2 separate regions of the Homo sapiens genome follow, and region 2 is linked to region 1. Evidence: fine-mapped expression QTL. Tissue or cell type: skeletal muscle. Region 1 holds a variant in brackets; the other region holds the start of a gene. All regions are shown on one strand. Distances are from middle to middle.

What was found. PIP is the estimated chance that this variant, and not a neighbour inherited with it, causes the effect.
Region 2: it holds the start of RAB38, and the variant in region 1 is fine-mapped to the expression of RAB38 in skeletal muscle (FUSION, PIP 0.95).

The regions. Positions count from the first base shown.
Region 1 is chr11:88,227,590-88,235,775 of GRCh38, reverse strand. No RefSeq gene overlaps it. Among named protein-coding and RNA genes, the nearest start is that of MIR3166, 55 kb to the right of the region's middle. The variant G/A (reference allele first, on the strand shown) is at 3,723.
Region 2 is chr11:88,170,390-88,178,575 of GRCh38, reverse strand. It overlaps RAB38 (RAB38, member RAS oncogene family), which reads left to right and starts at 3,133. Exons shown (of 3, transcript NM_022337.3): 1 at 3,133-3,393. The coding sequence starts at 3,192. It overlaps MIR3166 (microRNA 3166), which reads right to left and starts at 2,074; the gene lies at 1,983-2,074.

The DNA of each region.
Region 1 (8,186 bases):
CTTTTGGTGGTGGTTCTGTATTATTATGTGTTTTAGGCAAAATATTTATTCTCATATATATCAGAATAAATTTAACCAGCATATCAGACCTGTGATTTTATGGAGGATATTGCTAAACAACATCTAACTTTAATCATTTAAAAAAGTAATAGTCTGGATAATACTTAATATTAACAAAGATTATGGCTGTGATACATGAATATTTGGAAGCAATGGCTGATCTCAAATTTCAAGAATAGGACTGACTCTTCCTGGATTTCTTAAGTTAATTCTAGTTAATTTTCTGGGAAGAGTTAAAGTTTGTCATTTTATATTATTTTTAACCTCAGTCAACTGGAAACAGTCTTTACCATCAGAATTTGAGTTTGTGCAGTCCTTAGACATCTCCTCTCTATTCAGTACTCCACTCTACAAAGTACCTACTATGTATGTACAAGGAGCTTATATATACTGTAACATTAGATTATCATATTTAGTTTTTATGTTGAACCAGTAAGAAATGCATTAATATTCCTGTTTTGGAGATGAGGAAATTAAGGAGCAAAAATGTTGTATAAACTTTCAAAATCGTGTAGCTAATAAATAATGAAGCTAAGATTTATATGAAAATCTAAATCAAATGTCCACGTTCTTAGCACAGTATACTCTGCCTCCTCACCAGCAAATCCTATGGAATTACCAGGAGTTAGAAATCAGTATGTTATAGCTGACATGAAAAAAAAAAATTCACCTGAGAGTAAATTCAGGACCGTATACATAAGAAGAGAAACGACATTTAGTAATAGCCCTTAAATTTGCATCACACTTTATTGTTTGCAAGCCTGTCATGTATCACACCTTCATAATACCTCACATGGGGTGGAAATGTGGGCATGGGTTACTATTCCCATTTTAGATGAAGAAACAGAATTTTCTTAGGAAAATTACAGCAACTTGGCCAAGGTTACAGCCTAATTTAAGGCAGATTGAGAAGCAGAATCCAGGATCCGACATTGTGAGGTCTTTCTATGCATGGAGCAACTTCTAACAGGCTTGTACTTTAGTAGAAAGCAGGGCTGGAGACACTGTTGGAGTAGCCACCCCAGACAGATTTCACAGCCAAGAAGACAAGACAGAGGATTTGCACACAAACTATACCAGGCCTCATAGTCGGTTTTTTGTTGGTGGAATTTCAAACATCTCACCTACTGCTTATGTATATCGTTTCATTTATTGATCTGTTTCATTGTTGATCCATTAATCTATCCATCCATCCATCCATCCATTCTTCATCGTCGTTGTCATCATCATCATTGACATTATTATTACTACTATTGAATAGCTACTTTATGAAGGTACTATGCTAGGATATGAAGTTATAAAGTCAAACAAGACCAGATCTCTGCTTTTAAGGATCTCATAGACCAAAGGAATAGATAAATATGAACAAATATTTGTATTATAAAATGGCAAATCTAAAGGAGGGGCAGGAAAAGAGTACACAGACTTAAGGATGGAACAAGCAACCACTGGGGAGTGAGAGTGTAATGTAGGGAAGGCCCCAGGATGGAGGACATACCTAAAAGGTAAGTAGTTTGAGGTAACTAAGTGGAAAGGATTTTTCTGAGGGGAAGCTTGTACTAAGGCACAGAGCTACAGCATATTTTGGTTTGTTTAGAAAAATGCATGTGTTCCTTAATTATTGGTGAGAAAAGTGTAAGAAAAGGAGGGTAGGTAGTAAGCAGGCAGGGATAGTCCAGAGTCAGAGCAAATCTCACAGCAGGAGGGACTCCAGGAACCAGGAGAACCAATTCTAGAGGTGCAAAGCTCAGTTTGAATGGGTATTATCAAAGAGAAAGTAGGAAATGTGGCAATATTGTGTGTGTGTGTGTGTGTGTGTGTGTGTGTGTGTGTGTGTGTGATGTCAGGGCTCTAGATACTGAGAATGGATAGGGAGGAGGAAAACGGTGTCAAAGGGTGTCATCTCAGACTTATCACAAGGTAGAAAGAAAAGTTGCCGGCTTTTTCAGAATTCTTAAGTATTTTTATATTAACTTCTGTCCCGTCTCCTTAATACTCTTCTTTAAGTTTTAAAATAATGTAACTACATATGGAAAAGAAGAGAAAGAAGGATATATACACACACATATCACCTATCATTTTGTTCTACAGCATTCACTGTTTTAGCAACAATATTGTGTATTTTTCTCCTGTTTTGTTTTTATGTCTGTTGTTAGAAAATTAAAGGTAAAAGAAAACAATTCTATATAATACGCCACTATGAGAAATTTTTGCCAGTTATTTCTTTAAAAATGAAAAAGAGGTAGAATACAGGGCCTAATAGTGACCCTAAGTGTGTAGTGGTTCGAATGACAGGCTTTGGAGCCAAAAAAGATCAAATACAGAATTCCAGCTCTGACATTTACCCGTTGTACAATTTATTTTTTGTTGTTCTTAACTTTTTTTTCTGAAACATTGGAATAATATTACCCAACTCACAGATTTGGTTGCAATAAATAGTAAGTTAATTCTTATATCCTTTTCTGTAAAGGTTGTAAGACATTTCTTTCCCTTTTTTTTATAAAAGTGATTTATGTTTTTATTTTGAATTTACAAATTTAGCAATGAAAATTCTAGAAGTTTAATTAATCTTTATATATGGAGCACCTCTATTTCTAGCTACTCTACCTTTTGTATAAATATATTAACTGACACAAAAGCTTTCTATCAGAAGACCAGATTTTTTCAGCTGTGAGGATAAAGTCTCATTTAGTGTTCTTTTAAAGGTAAATCTAGCTGGGAGGAATGAGATAGCATAGAAAAAGCTAACTGTTTTAAACAATTTTTGAACAGCGTTATTTTCAACAATATAACCATCCTTATTTGTTGTATCATTTCTATTTTTGAGATTGCTGCATGCAATTGTGAGATTCCCTTCTAGGACAGTGGCATGGTAGCAGGTTGTCATTGTGTAAAAGGGGTTATGATAGAACTGAAGGGACAGCAAAGCTATCAATGATCGTCTGTCATAATCAGTTTTTTTCTTACAATCATCTCATCTCAAGACCCCATAACTCCGCACTCTGATTGTGCCCATTAGGCACAGCAGATGGTACCATTTTACTCCGTGGAAGCAGTGAGCAGAAAACTTGCCTCCGACCACAACATTTGTGAGCAGAAAAACTAGACAGCCTTTTCCCCTCAGTATGCCCAAGCCCTGGCATTTAGTTGCAGTAGGCAAGTGATGTAAAAACCCTTTGATGATCTAGAAGAGGAAACATAGATACTTTTATTCTAATGCACACTGTTGTGAGCCTTGACTATGAAGCACACTTCCTCTGGCTGAGAGTGTGTGTTCACAAGCTAATTAACGTTTTCCAACCCTGCTTTGTCTTGCCATAGAAAAGATGGATCAGATATTTCTCCTGATTTTATGTAAGCTGTACATCTTTTCTGTTTATAACCATGGAAGAAAAACAATAACTGTGGCAAATGCAAAGACCTACGGCAATACACACTCTGGGTGCTGATTTGGGGCATGTTACTAAATCAATGTGTGACCTAGGCAATTCTCTTCCTTAGCTAGTTCTCAGATTTCTCCTCTGTGAGAATGAAGGGGTAGGATCACTGATTTGCTTCATCCTTTCCAGCATCAGCATCCGATGGACTAAAGTGATTAATGTTGGGCCTGTGGCAAGCGCAGATTTTATGGGGTTCCACCTAGTGGCTTTGCTCCATATTAC[G/A]GTTCTAAGTGAGTATGGCATGGTTGTATAGAATAGAGGCTTTTGAGGCTACAGACCTTGCTCTGAGTCCTGACTTTGTGCTCAATATCCAAGTAAACTTGGGCAGCTTCTTAGCTCTTTGTGATTTGTTTGCTTTTCTATAAAAATGGAAAATAATACCTATTATATAAGGTGGTTATGAAGATTAAATGTTAGCACAAAACACAGGAATAAAAGTGAGGGCAGCATTATTAGATTCTAGGGAAATTAAAGTGACAGTTAAAAATAGTGACAACTGGCTGGTAGATGGGGACCTGCTCTGGGTGCATATCCATGAAACTCACTGTGCATCATATAAAGATGGCCAGCTAGACATAGGTAATATGTGCCTCCTCCTAGGAGAGGAACCAGGATAGTAAGTAGATATCAGAATAGTTGGCAGATACTCACATTTTAAACAGATCATATAGGGCACAATGCTAGGATTCCCCAGAGCAGTGACAAGAAGCACCCGAAATAGGTAAAGAGAGAGCAAGACAGCTTGCCCAGCCAGGAACCAGCTAAAAGTTAGGAGAGCCTCCTGGACATGGGGAAATAGTAAAAGAGAAACCCCCGGGGTTCCAAAATCAGCTTTTACTATCATGGCCACCAAAGAAACCCTTAACTCGTTAGGGCCTTGGGCTTGACATACAGAGCTGGCTAAAGATTGCAAAGAGATGTTTCTCCAGAAAGAGAACCCATGCAAAATTTCACAGGCACCTGAGCTTGGAGCAGCCTCAGCTGGGAGCTATCTTGAGAGCCTAGATACTGGAGATCTACAAACATGGCTGGGGCTACTGCACTGCTCCAACAAGAGAAAGAAGAGGCTGGGCACTCCCATGCACCCCTAGGAGGGTGCTTGCTGCCCTGCTGTGGGCTGCTGTGAGACTGAGATGTAAGTGGACCATATTCCCCATAGCTTCTTGCCCATACTGCTAGACTGGAAGGTACTCTGCCCACCCTGGGTCCCAGGCCCAGGGTGAGTGCCATTTTGAGAGTTTAAGGCTGAGCCATATGTCACCTTAGGCCTGAGTTCAGGCTGATGTGGTTGTAGCTGCCATCTGGCCAAGGAGGAACAAGAAGACAAAGGTATCCTATGTATATCTAAGACAATATTTACTTCCCTGCAACAGGCTGCTGTGAGATTGAGACACAAGTGGACTGTATTCTCCACAGCTTCATGCCCACACTGCCTGCATGGGAGGAGACCCACCCTCCCTGACTATAGACTCAAGGTGCCATTTTGAGAGTTTAATGCTTGGTTGTCCCCTGCCCTTGAGATGAGTTTGACTTGACATGGCTTCAGCTAATGCCCAGTTAAAGAGGTATAGGAAAGCCAGGCTTCCCAATGCACATCTAGGTCAATACCCAGTACCCTACTACGGGCTGCTGTAAGACCAAGACTCAAGTAAACTGCTTTTCCCATAGCTTCTTGCCCATGCTTCTTGCCTGAAGGGACCTTACACTCCCTGGTCACAGGCCCAGAGTGCCATTCTGAGAACTTAATACTGGGCTGTGCCCCAACCTTGGGCCAAGTTTGAGGTGACATAGTTGCAGCTGCCACCCAGCTGGGAAAGGGATAAGTGAGACAAAGCTCTCCTAAGCACAGTTAGGACAATGCTTACTGCCCTGCTACAGGTGGCTGTGGGACTGGAGACTAGCCCACCCAACCCATCACAGCTTCCAGCAACAACAACATGCGTTGCTTGGGTCCCAGTGGGTTGCACCACCATTGCTACTACCATCACCCATACCACATTAGCTACCAAGGGTCCTAAGAACCCACCCACACACTGGGACCACTGCTCTTACTATTAATTTCTAAGCAAGCCACGTGAAGGCTCAAGAATCAGTCCTCCCAGACTCACAAACACTAGAGCCAGTGTAAGTTGCTCTGGGGCCTGAAAGGACCCCACTGCTACTACCACCAGAGCCTGAAGACTGATTTAGTTGGTGTCCAGGTCACTAGCTTAATTCCACCACAAACTCAACTATTAGCTGTACCCTTAGTCACTGAGGAAATCACAGAGACCACTGCCCTGTGTACTGCCAAAATATTCATACAAAGATCACACTACCATGAGCACCCAAAATCAAAGCCACAGTATCTTAACTGAATCAACAACATATACACATCCTCAGGAAAAAATTCTCCCCTATGAAAGCAATTTCAAAAACTTGGAAAAAGTGACTGCTATACAAGATGCACCAAAATCAATGGAGGGACACAGGAAACATGAAAAATCAGGGAAATATGATACCATCAAAGGACCAAAATTATCCAATAACAGATCCCAATCAAAAATAATTCCTCTTTAAAAGTTCAGATAAAGAATTCAAAATACTGATCTTAAAGAATCTCAATGAGATGCAAGATAAACCTGAAAATCAATACAAAGAAATCAGAAAATCAATCCAGGATATTAATGAGAAATTTACCAAGGAGATGAACATCATAAAAACAAATAGAATAGAAATTCTGGAATTAAAAAATTCATTGAAAGAAATAAAAAATATATCCAAAAGTTTCAATAATAGACTAGACCAAGAAGAAGCATCTCAGAACTTGAAGACAAGACTTTCAAAATAATCCTGTCAGACAAAAATAAGAGAAACAGAATAAAAAATGAATGAACAAAGCTTTCAGACATCTGGGACCAGATAAAGTGACCAAATTTACTAATTATTGGTATTGCCAAAAGTGAAGAGGGATCAAAAAGTTTAGAAAACATATTTAAGAAAATAATGAAAATTTCTCATCTATCAAGAAAGTTAGGCATCTAGATACAGGGGACACAGCAACCCCAAGGAAAATACATTGCACAAAGGACCTCACCATGGCATATTATACTCAGAATGTCTAAAGTCCAAGTGAAATAAAGAGTTTTAAAATTAGCAAGAGAAAAATATCAAGTCAACTATAAAGGAAATCCCATCAAACTAACTGTGGACTCTTCAGCAAAAGTATTACAGGCCAGAAGAGAATGAGATGGCACTTTCAAAATACTGAAAGAAAAACTTCCAGCCAATGATTTTGTATCCTGCCAGAATAAGCTTTATAAATGAAGGATAATTTAAGTCATTCTCAGACAAGAAAGAACTGAGAAAACTTGCCACTACTAGACTCTAGACTAGACCTATAGTAAATGCTCAAAGAGTCCTTAAGCAAGAAATGAAAGGTTAATATTCACCACCATGAAAACACATGGCAATATACAACTTACAGTTTGTATAAAACAATCACACAAAAGAGGAATAGAAAGATGTCAAAGATACCACAGAATTTCATTAAACCACAAAGACAAAAAGAAAAAAAAAGAATTGTTTAAAACAACTTGAAATCAATCAATAATAAGCCAGAAACAAAGCCTCACATATCAATATTAACCTTGAATGTAAATGAATAAAATGCTGCACTTAAAAGATAAAGATTGGCAGAATAGACAAAAAGCCCACAATCCAACTATATGGTACAAGAAATTCACCTTGCTGAATTAGACTGAAAGTAAAGGGATGAAAACTATATGGTACAAGAAATTCACCTTACTGAATTAGACGGAAAGTAAAGGGGTGAAAAAAGATATTCTACACAAACCAACCAAAAGTGAGTAGGAGTAGCTATGCTTATATCAGATAAAGCAGACTTTAAATCAAAAACAGTAAAGAAAGAAGATGAAGGAGGCCATTATGTAATGATAAAGGGATCAATTCAGCAAGAGGATATAACGATCCTAAGTATATATGCATACAACATTGGAGCACCTATATTTACCAAACAAATATTACTAGACCAAAAGAAAGAGACAGACAGCAATGCAATAACAGTAGAGAGTTTTAATATCCCACTAACAGCACTAGACAGATCATTGAGGTAGAAACTTAACAAAGAAACATTGGCCTTAAATTGGACTTCAGAACAAATTGACTTAATAGACATTTATAAAACATTCTACCTAATAAATAGAGAATATGCATTATTTTCACAATCGCATGGAATATTCTCTAAGATAGACCAAATATTAGGCCAAAAATAAGTATTAACAGATTGTAAAAAATCAAAATCATATCAAGTACTTACTCAGATTACACTGGAATAAAGTCAGAAATCAATGCCAACGCAGTCTGGTAAATATACACGTACATGGAAATTAAACGGCATGCCTGAATGATCACTGTGTCAATGAAGAGGTATAGTTGGAAATTTAAAAATTTTTTGAAGTAAATGAAAATGGAAACACAACATACCAAAACCTGTGGGATACAGCAAAAGCAGTGCTAAGAGGAAAGTTTATAGCATTAAAAGCCTACATCAAAAAAGTAGAAAGATCACAAGTTAATAACTTAAATTGCACCTCAAGAAACTAAAAAAAGAACAAACCAAACCCAAAGTTAGCAGAAAAAAGGAAATAACAAAGATCAGAGCAGAATGAAATGAAATTCAGATTT
Region 2 (8,186 bases), 57 kb after region 1:
GCCTTTTACGAAGATTTTACTGAACTGCTAGGCTGGGGTGCTTACCAAGCTACTGTAATCTAAAAGTCTTAAAAATATAAACCGAGAGTAATTTCTTCCCACTGTGAAGAATGATCATGAGACCTAAATGAGTACGGCTGGAAACAAAACTGCACATACTTCCTGCCTGGCCAAGGAACTTGCTCACCATGGTTGGCTGCTGTCCCTGAGAGAGGAATCTCCTACCCCCAGAGAGGCAATAAAACTGAAGCTTCAGGACCCCTTCCAAGGCCCTAGACCTAATTATATATTTTTGATTTTGCATTCTTTTGCTCAAAAAGCTACTTCCTCCAATTTTATCAGCTTCAGGACCAGAAATCCTGAACTTTGCCCTGCCTGTCCTACCTCATAAATCCAAATGTCTGATGTTCCAATATGCTCTTGCTCAAAAGAGAACAGATAAGGGTGAGGATGACTCTGCCGGGACCAGGCTTGGGAAAACAGTACGGGGCTGGTAAGAAAGTTGGGTTGGGTATAATTTTGAAGGCTGGCCCACAAGATGTCTCAAACTCCTACCTTGTTTCTACCCCAGGAGCTTGTTGGCCAGACAAAGCCTGTCTCTCAGATTTACAGACCCAGGATTTTAGAGCTGGCAAAGGTCTCATTTTGTCATCCTCCCTAATTTTGCAGGCATTTAGAATGGCTTAAGCATCTTGGGCTACTGAATTCCCCTCCCTGGGAAGTGAGGTGACATTGTTGGCTAATTCTTTAAGCAGGTAGAGTATTTGTCTCACTTGTTAGATGTGATCTTCTTGGTGTGTCCTCGCATGGGTGGAAACCAGTAAATGAGGCCTACCCAGCTAAGCACTTCAATAAAACACAAACGACTGCAATTCTACACACTGTCACTTAGTGTCCATTCTGAGCAAAACTTCTGAGTTACTCTCTGAGGAAAGATGAAACTGCACAGGACAGTGCCTGTGGACAGTATTTTAAGCTTGTCCCTCATTTCATAGTAATAGCTACAATTTATTTACCACCTACTATGGACCCAGCATTTTATCAACAATTTCATTTGTATTTATTTATTTATTTATTTATTTATTTATTTAGAGATAGAGTCTTGCTCAGGTTACCCAGGCTGGAGAGCAATGGTGTGATCTTGGCTCACTGCAACCTCTGCATCCCTGGTTCAAGATAGTCTCCTGTCTCAGCCTCTCAAGTAGCTGGGATTATAGTCACCTGCCACCACGCCCGGCTAATTTTTGTATTTTTAGTAGAGACGGGTTTCACCATGTTGGCCAGGCTGGTCTTGAACTCCTGACCTCAAGTGATTCACCCACCTCAGCCTCCCAAAGTGCTTGGATTACAATCATGAGCAACCATGCCCTGCCATAGGTATTATCATTCTCCTTTCGTTGATGTGGAAACCAAGGCTCAGAGGTTATGTGACTTGTCCCGGGTACACATCTTCAGCATCCCTCTGCTTGTTTGGGGCATGTGGAGGCTAAAGTTTAGGGAGTGTCAGGCCAGAAGAGGAAGGCAGAAAGACAATGGCCTTGCCAAACCTCCTTTCTCCCTTTCACACAGGCCTGTGTTTAAGTCCTAGTTCTAACACATACTAGTTATGTGTGCCCTTGAGAAAGCTGCTGTTAATCTTGGTTTCCTTATTTATAAATTGAAGAAAATAACCCACTTCATAAAGCAATTGAGAAGATGAAATGATAGAATGTGAGCAGAGCTCCTTCACAGCACATTCAGGTACAAAATAGCTCATTTTGGTATAAACTGCTCACCCCCTAGCCCTGAATGCCCAATTTCTCATTTTCTTTATGTCTTTACTAAATTGTCTCCATCTTACTGAAACCTTCCCTGGCCACCCTATCTAAAAGGCAAACCCCATATAATCTCTTCACATCCCCTTTCTGCCTTATTTTATTACCAATTAATATATGACAAATTGTATTTATTTTGTCTTGTCCTGTCTCCACCCACAAGAAGGTAAATTTTTCTTAGGCCAGTAGGCATTGTCTGCGTTAGGAGGATGATACAGAAATCCTAACGCAGACAATGCCTACTGGCCTCAAAAAAATTTACCTTCTTGTAGGTGGAGACAGACAAGACAAAATAAGTACAATTTGTCATATATTAATTGGTAATAAAATGTATATTGGTCAAATGAATGAAAACAAACAACAAAAACAACAAAAAGAAGTTGGGAACCTAAAGACCTATGTTTGAATTTGGTTTTTTTCCTTACTATTTGACTCTGGGTCCATTACTTAAAATGTCTGGTCCTTAGCTTCCTCATTTGTAAAATAGGAAGAAAAATGGTATCTATTATTAAGACAGCTGGGATGACTAAATGACATAATTTATAAACCCTCTGGCATATAGCGAGTGCTCAATAAATGTTTGCCATTATTATTATTTGTAATAATCTGACCGATTGTTAAAACTGTCTTTCTGTGCAGCTCTGAGTTTTTAGGATATGGGAAGAGGCTAAAAGTCACCAGTGCCCTTGGCATTTTCGGCCCAGTTGTCCTCCTTGTTAACTGATTACCAGTTGAATGGGTGTGAAAGTGCTCAGTGTTCCCACCTCCAAGCTGCTCAGAGGTCAGCATTGCCATTCATTGAGAAATAACAGGCTGTGAGAGCTCAAATGACTTACTTATGGTCCCTCAACTTAAAAACCAGGGCACGCAGGAACCAAGCCCAGCCAGTCTTGGGCTTCCTAATACTGTAATTTCTCTCTACAGTGTGGGGTAGTTAAGAGCCTGTGACTTCAGACCTGTGGTCAACGGGGCCTTTCACCGGCCATCTCCCGCAGAGTACTTTTTCACAATCAGTTTTCTCGCAAGCAAAACGTGGAAAATAAGATCCACACCTCACAAGTTTGTGGCCAGGGTCACAGGTGAAAACAGCTCTTCGGAAACTCTAAAGCGCCGGATAAATAAGCGCTGCAACAGGCAACCACACGCGAACCCCTTTCAGCTGCCAGTCCCGGGACTCGCTCCTGTCTCCTCCCCTCTCCAAGACCGCGGAGTAGGAAGGAGGATTAACCCCTAGGGGAGGAGTTCCGCCCCCCAGCCCCCGCCCCGCCGCCCACGCCTCTCTCTGCACCTACACTTGCGCTCCCCAAGTCTCTCTCGTGCGCAGAGCCCAGGCTGCGCTTCCCTGGTCAGGCACGGCACGTCTGGCCGGCCGCCAGGATGCAGGCCCCGCACAAGGAGCACCTGTACAAGTTGCTGGTGATTGGCGACCTGGGCGTGGGGAAGACCAGTATCATCAAGCGCTACGTGCACCAGAACTTCTCTTCGCACTACCGGGCCACAATCGGCGTGGACTTCGCGCTCAAGGTGCTCCACTGGGACCCGGAGACTGTGGTGCGCCTGCAGCTCTGGGATATCGCAGGTGAGCGCGGGGGGAGGGGGTCAGGGGGATAGAGCGCCTCGCGGCCGGTTTCCAGTCTCGAGGCAGCGGCTTGCGGCCAAGCGTGAGATTAAAATCACTAGGTCGCGAGGCAGTTTTTCCTGGTGGGCTGGAAACTTAGTTTCAAAGAAAAGAAAAACGTCTGAAACTTCAAGTGCATTCCCTGGCGCTTTTGGGCTATTGCTTTAGCTCCTTCCCGCACAGTCCCCTGGGATCTCTCTGCCCAGAGCAGGCCTCCCCAGGGAACCAGAGGAAGATTGTCTGCAATTGCATTCTGTTCTCCACTCCAGCTCGTTTTCTGGGCGCGGGCAGTTCTGCCAATGACGCAGCCCAGTGTCACGCACGTCCTTCCGTGCAGGGGCGGACCGAGGGGAAGCCCCTAGGCTGGTTCACAGAGGAAACCGGGATAGTTCCAGGCTAGCTGGAGTTTGCCCATTCCTGTCTTCAGTGGCTCACTTTATTTCAAATTTTGTCACCTTTCTCTCTGCCCTTAAGACAAAGGAGTTTGAGGGTTTTTGTTTTGTTTTTTTTTTTTTTTTTTTTTGCTTTTTGCTTACAGTAAGCCAAGTACTTTTGTGTGTATATGTCAGGGGCAAAGTATTCTTTCTCCCTCTCTTTCTGTATTTCTATCTCTCTGGCTCTCTGTCTTCTATGAAAAGGAGGTTGTGTGTATATTTTAAGGCCATTTTTATGTAAGGGCCTATGATAGCCTTATGATTTCTTGATTTGGCCCTAAAGTTTTCATTGAGAGATCTGAAAAATGAGAGGTTGTTTGTTTTTGTTTTTTACAATATTTAAAATCAGATTTTGACTCCACAGGTTTGTACCAGAAGTTAGGCCTAGTCAAAAGTGAGGGTGCAATGTATCTACTCCAAGTGTGAATCCTTGGACAAGGCTGTTTGCAACCTGCGCATGACCAACCCCTCATTACAGATTTTAGCCCTGCCACTAACTAACCTGCTCAGTGGCTTTGGACAAGTCTCTTCAGCTCAGTTGCATCGCTGTTAAGTGGAAAGGAGTTGGGCAAGGGTCAAGGATCTTCCTGCTCAGAAGTTTTAAAGTCCTCTGGGATTCTCCATGGGAACAACTTCAAACAGTCTTATTTCATGGTCTGTGACACCAGGAACCTTTCGTTATAAGTGCTGGACCCAAACTAGCCACTTCTGTTTCAGAAAATGGATTCATTTTAGCTGATGCATTTGATTGGAAACTCTTTATCATGGCTTGAAACTAGAACAAATGTGGAAAATTTTTGAAAGGGCATTTGTGATCTGGGGACTTTCGTGCCTCTTTAATCATGAACTGCCAGGCCTTTTTCTTTTAGCATGTGAACAGATGAACAGATTCATGCATTTGGAGTCATCTTCAGCTGCTCTAGTAGCAAGGGGGTTATCAGAGAACAGAAAATGTTATCAGCCACTGTTGGATGGGGCTTTTCATCTAAAAAAATTCTCTCTGTGTACTTTCTTGCTGCATGTCATAATGTCTGAAAACCCTTCTGGCTGCTCGAAAGTCCTCAGGATTCAGATTTAGAAACGGCTTACTGTTTAAACGGGGATGTAGCTGTAATTTGGACTTCTGTGTACAATCCAGGTAACAGCATGACAGCAGAGAAGTTCTATGTCTGTAGATTTCAGTCTCCTCACATAAACAGAAGAGATGGAAGGGTACAGTGATTAATAGCCCAAATTCCAGAGTTGAACTGCCTCCATCTGGATCCTTACTTTACTCTGCATGTAGTAGGCAATCTTAGGTAAGTTCTCTAACCTCCTTGTTTTGGTTTCCTTACTTGTAAACAGGGAGAATGCTTTCTCCCAATAGATGACAGGTGAGCAACCAACAGTGCTAGCTGAAGGTGATCATGCCTGTTCTCTAGGAGATCTGCAAGGATTATTATCACACTAGCTACCATTTTTTTAAGCCTATATAAATGCTAGGCAAGAAGGATATGATATACAAGTGCTTATTAATTCCTAATAAATTGTGATCCCAATATTACATATATATTTTGTCCCCAAGTTATCACCATTTTCAGCTTTGCTCCTGACATACTCTCAGGAGCAATTTAACTCCCAAGCTCGAAAGCACTTCGTTAGCCATGTTTTGTAGACTGAAGTTGCAGTGGAGGCTGTAGTCACAGAAGTCTGTATAAATAAGAAATCTGAAGTCTTGGGAAGTTCATTCTACAGATACTGCGGTGGTGTTACATTCAACATCTCAGTAGAGGAGCTTGTTTTTCCCAGAGCTCTAATGCTCAGTGGTAACCTGTCTTTAGCAGCCTTAAGCCCAAAGGCCCTGTTAGCTGAATTATAGATTGGACAGCAGGCACAGTGAATTGGGTGAAAGCTAGGCCACTGTAGGAAATGGTTGGAACATGCACGTGCTCCATGTTTCATGGTTTAAGCTGCATAGGGAGCCATGTGGGTTATGAGTTCATGTGAAATACAACCTCAACTGCCCACCCAGACTCCAGTCAGCCAGGTGTACCTTATAGTACTTTCAAATCACAGCCTGTCTGTCCACAGATAAGAATGCATCTCTCCGTCCTTAGTGTTCAACTCTGGTGTGTCCCCGGAGAGAGCAGGTAGTGGAGGTTAGTGGGCCTAGCTTTGAGAAGGTTGTGGGTGTTCAATGAGATAGAGAAGACCTGCACTGTTCTGATAGGATATCATATACATTTGTTATTAAGGGAATCTTGGCTCAGCTAGACTCTTGATACTCATTTGGTTCAATGCCAAATAGGGCCCTTTTTAATCTACTAAATTCCCATGATGTGTCTCTTATAGCCATGTAGATTGGCCAGTCTGATCTTGAAAGACTCCAAAAAGTATCTCTGGGGTCTTGTGAAGTAGGCCTTGAAACAAGATGATAAATCCCACCAAACCCCATAGGGGACAGCAGTTGGCCTGGATTCCAGTGATTCCATGCTAGAAGGTCAGCTGTGTGTTCAGAGGCTCCTGATAGAGTCAAAGAAATGAAGTAACTTTGCCTGAGGCCACCCAGCTAGTAGAGGAAGAGCCAGATTTGACCCGGTTCCGTTTCACTCAGAGTCAAGCCTTGCTGTTTGCACTTGCTGGCCTGTGAGTGCCTGGCACACAGCTGGCCCACAGGGATTATGCCTTCTTTTTAAAGGTGTTGTTTCATTAGTAGGTGGGTTAAACTTACCTTCTCCTTTCTAACTGGATTTTTGGTATTATTAAGTACCACTGTGCATTCAGTGAAAAGGAATGAATTAAAATCTATTTCTGAAAATTTTATCTTGATTAGGATGTGAATTTATAGAGTTTTTAAAAAAATAGGTCATTTAGGGAAAATGAAAACAAAAAGTTCACACTTGAGACTCCACTTTTTTATTACTCTCCAAATCCAGAGACTATAATTGCTCATTCACCCTTTCAAAAAGAACTGTACTATCTTGTCTAGAACTCTTGATGTGCTTTGGGACTCTGATCTAGGCATTGGGACATTTATAGGGATAGTAGCTAATATTTCTTAAGCCCTTATTCTTATGAATGTCCAGGCATATTTAATCTATAATTTCCCAGTATAATAGCTGGTTAGGCCACTAGAATTTAAAATTGACCATTGAATCTGTTTTCAAAAGATTTGCTCTACTGTCCTTAATTTGAAAACAGAGCACTTCAGACATAGTTTAAATATATTCTAAATTTAGATACTCTGAAAATATAATTAGGCAAACTGTGAAACCTTGCTGAACCTCAATTGCCTCATCTATAAAATGATGATTATTTAATTTTCCTGTGATACTTATTTTATCTTTTGTAGTCTCTGTAAGCAAAAGGTTTATTATCACTGTCCTCAGGGTATAGGTAGCACATGGTCATTTATTCCAGCTTCTTTACTTACTAGCTTTGTGACTTGTGTGAGTTACTTAGCCTCTGTGCCTTCGTTTTCTGTCTGTAAAATGGGAATAATAACAATACCTGCATCTTAGTATTTTTGTAAGAATTAAATGAGTTAATTTATGCAAAGCTGTGCCTGACACATAATAAATGCTGAATGAGTGTTAGCTATTATTCCTGTTGTCATAATTGTTATTATTACAGACTGTTTTCACATACATTTTCCCACTTGATCTCCCCAGCATTGCTGAGGGTGTAGACAAGCAGATAGTCCTAAACCCAATTTTATTTAAAAAGATAAAAAATGAGAGAGGTAAGAGAGTTGCCTGAGATCATAAGTGGCAGAGGAGAATAGGAACAGTCGGTCTGTTTAGCTTCAGCTTACTTGTATGAGTGAGATAACCAAGTCTGTTGGTAATAAAAAAACCCAATCCAGTTTTATATTGCTATAGTGGAAAATAAATTAAGTTGGCAGACAATTTAGAGAGTGTTTCGAGTGTTTCTTTGCTATGTAAAAGTTTGACTGCAGAGCTCTGCTAAATAACAAATGCCTCTAAATACTTAAAATAAGATCTACCCTATAAGAAAAATATTTCCACTCAAGGCACATCTATACCAGCTTCCCCCACCTAAGCCATGTGACATGACAGCAGAAGAATACATTAACTGTCCCATAGACAAAGTAACAGGATGAAGGCAGCCCAGGCCCAGTGTCAGGAGTCCTTAAACTGACTCTTCACACCAGCAACTCTGACACTTATTTGGGTCACATTGTTATGTTGTTTTAGAGTTTGTGAAGTTCTTTCAGGTTGTGAAATTCAACCAAAGATAGGATTCGGACTTAACTATCTCTTTAGTACCGATTTCTGAAAGACTATTTCTTCAAGCAGTTGTAGAAGATGGGTCTTAAAT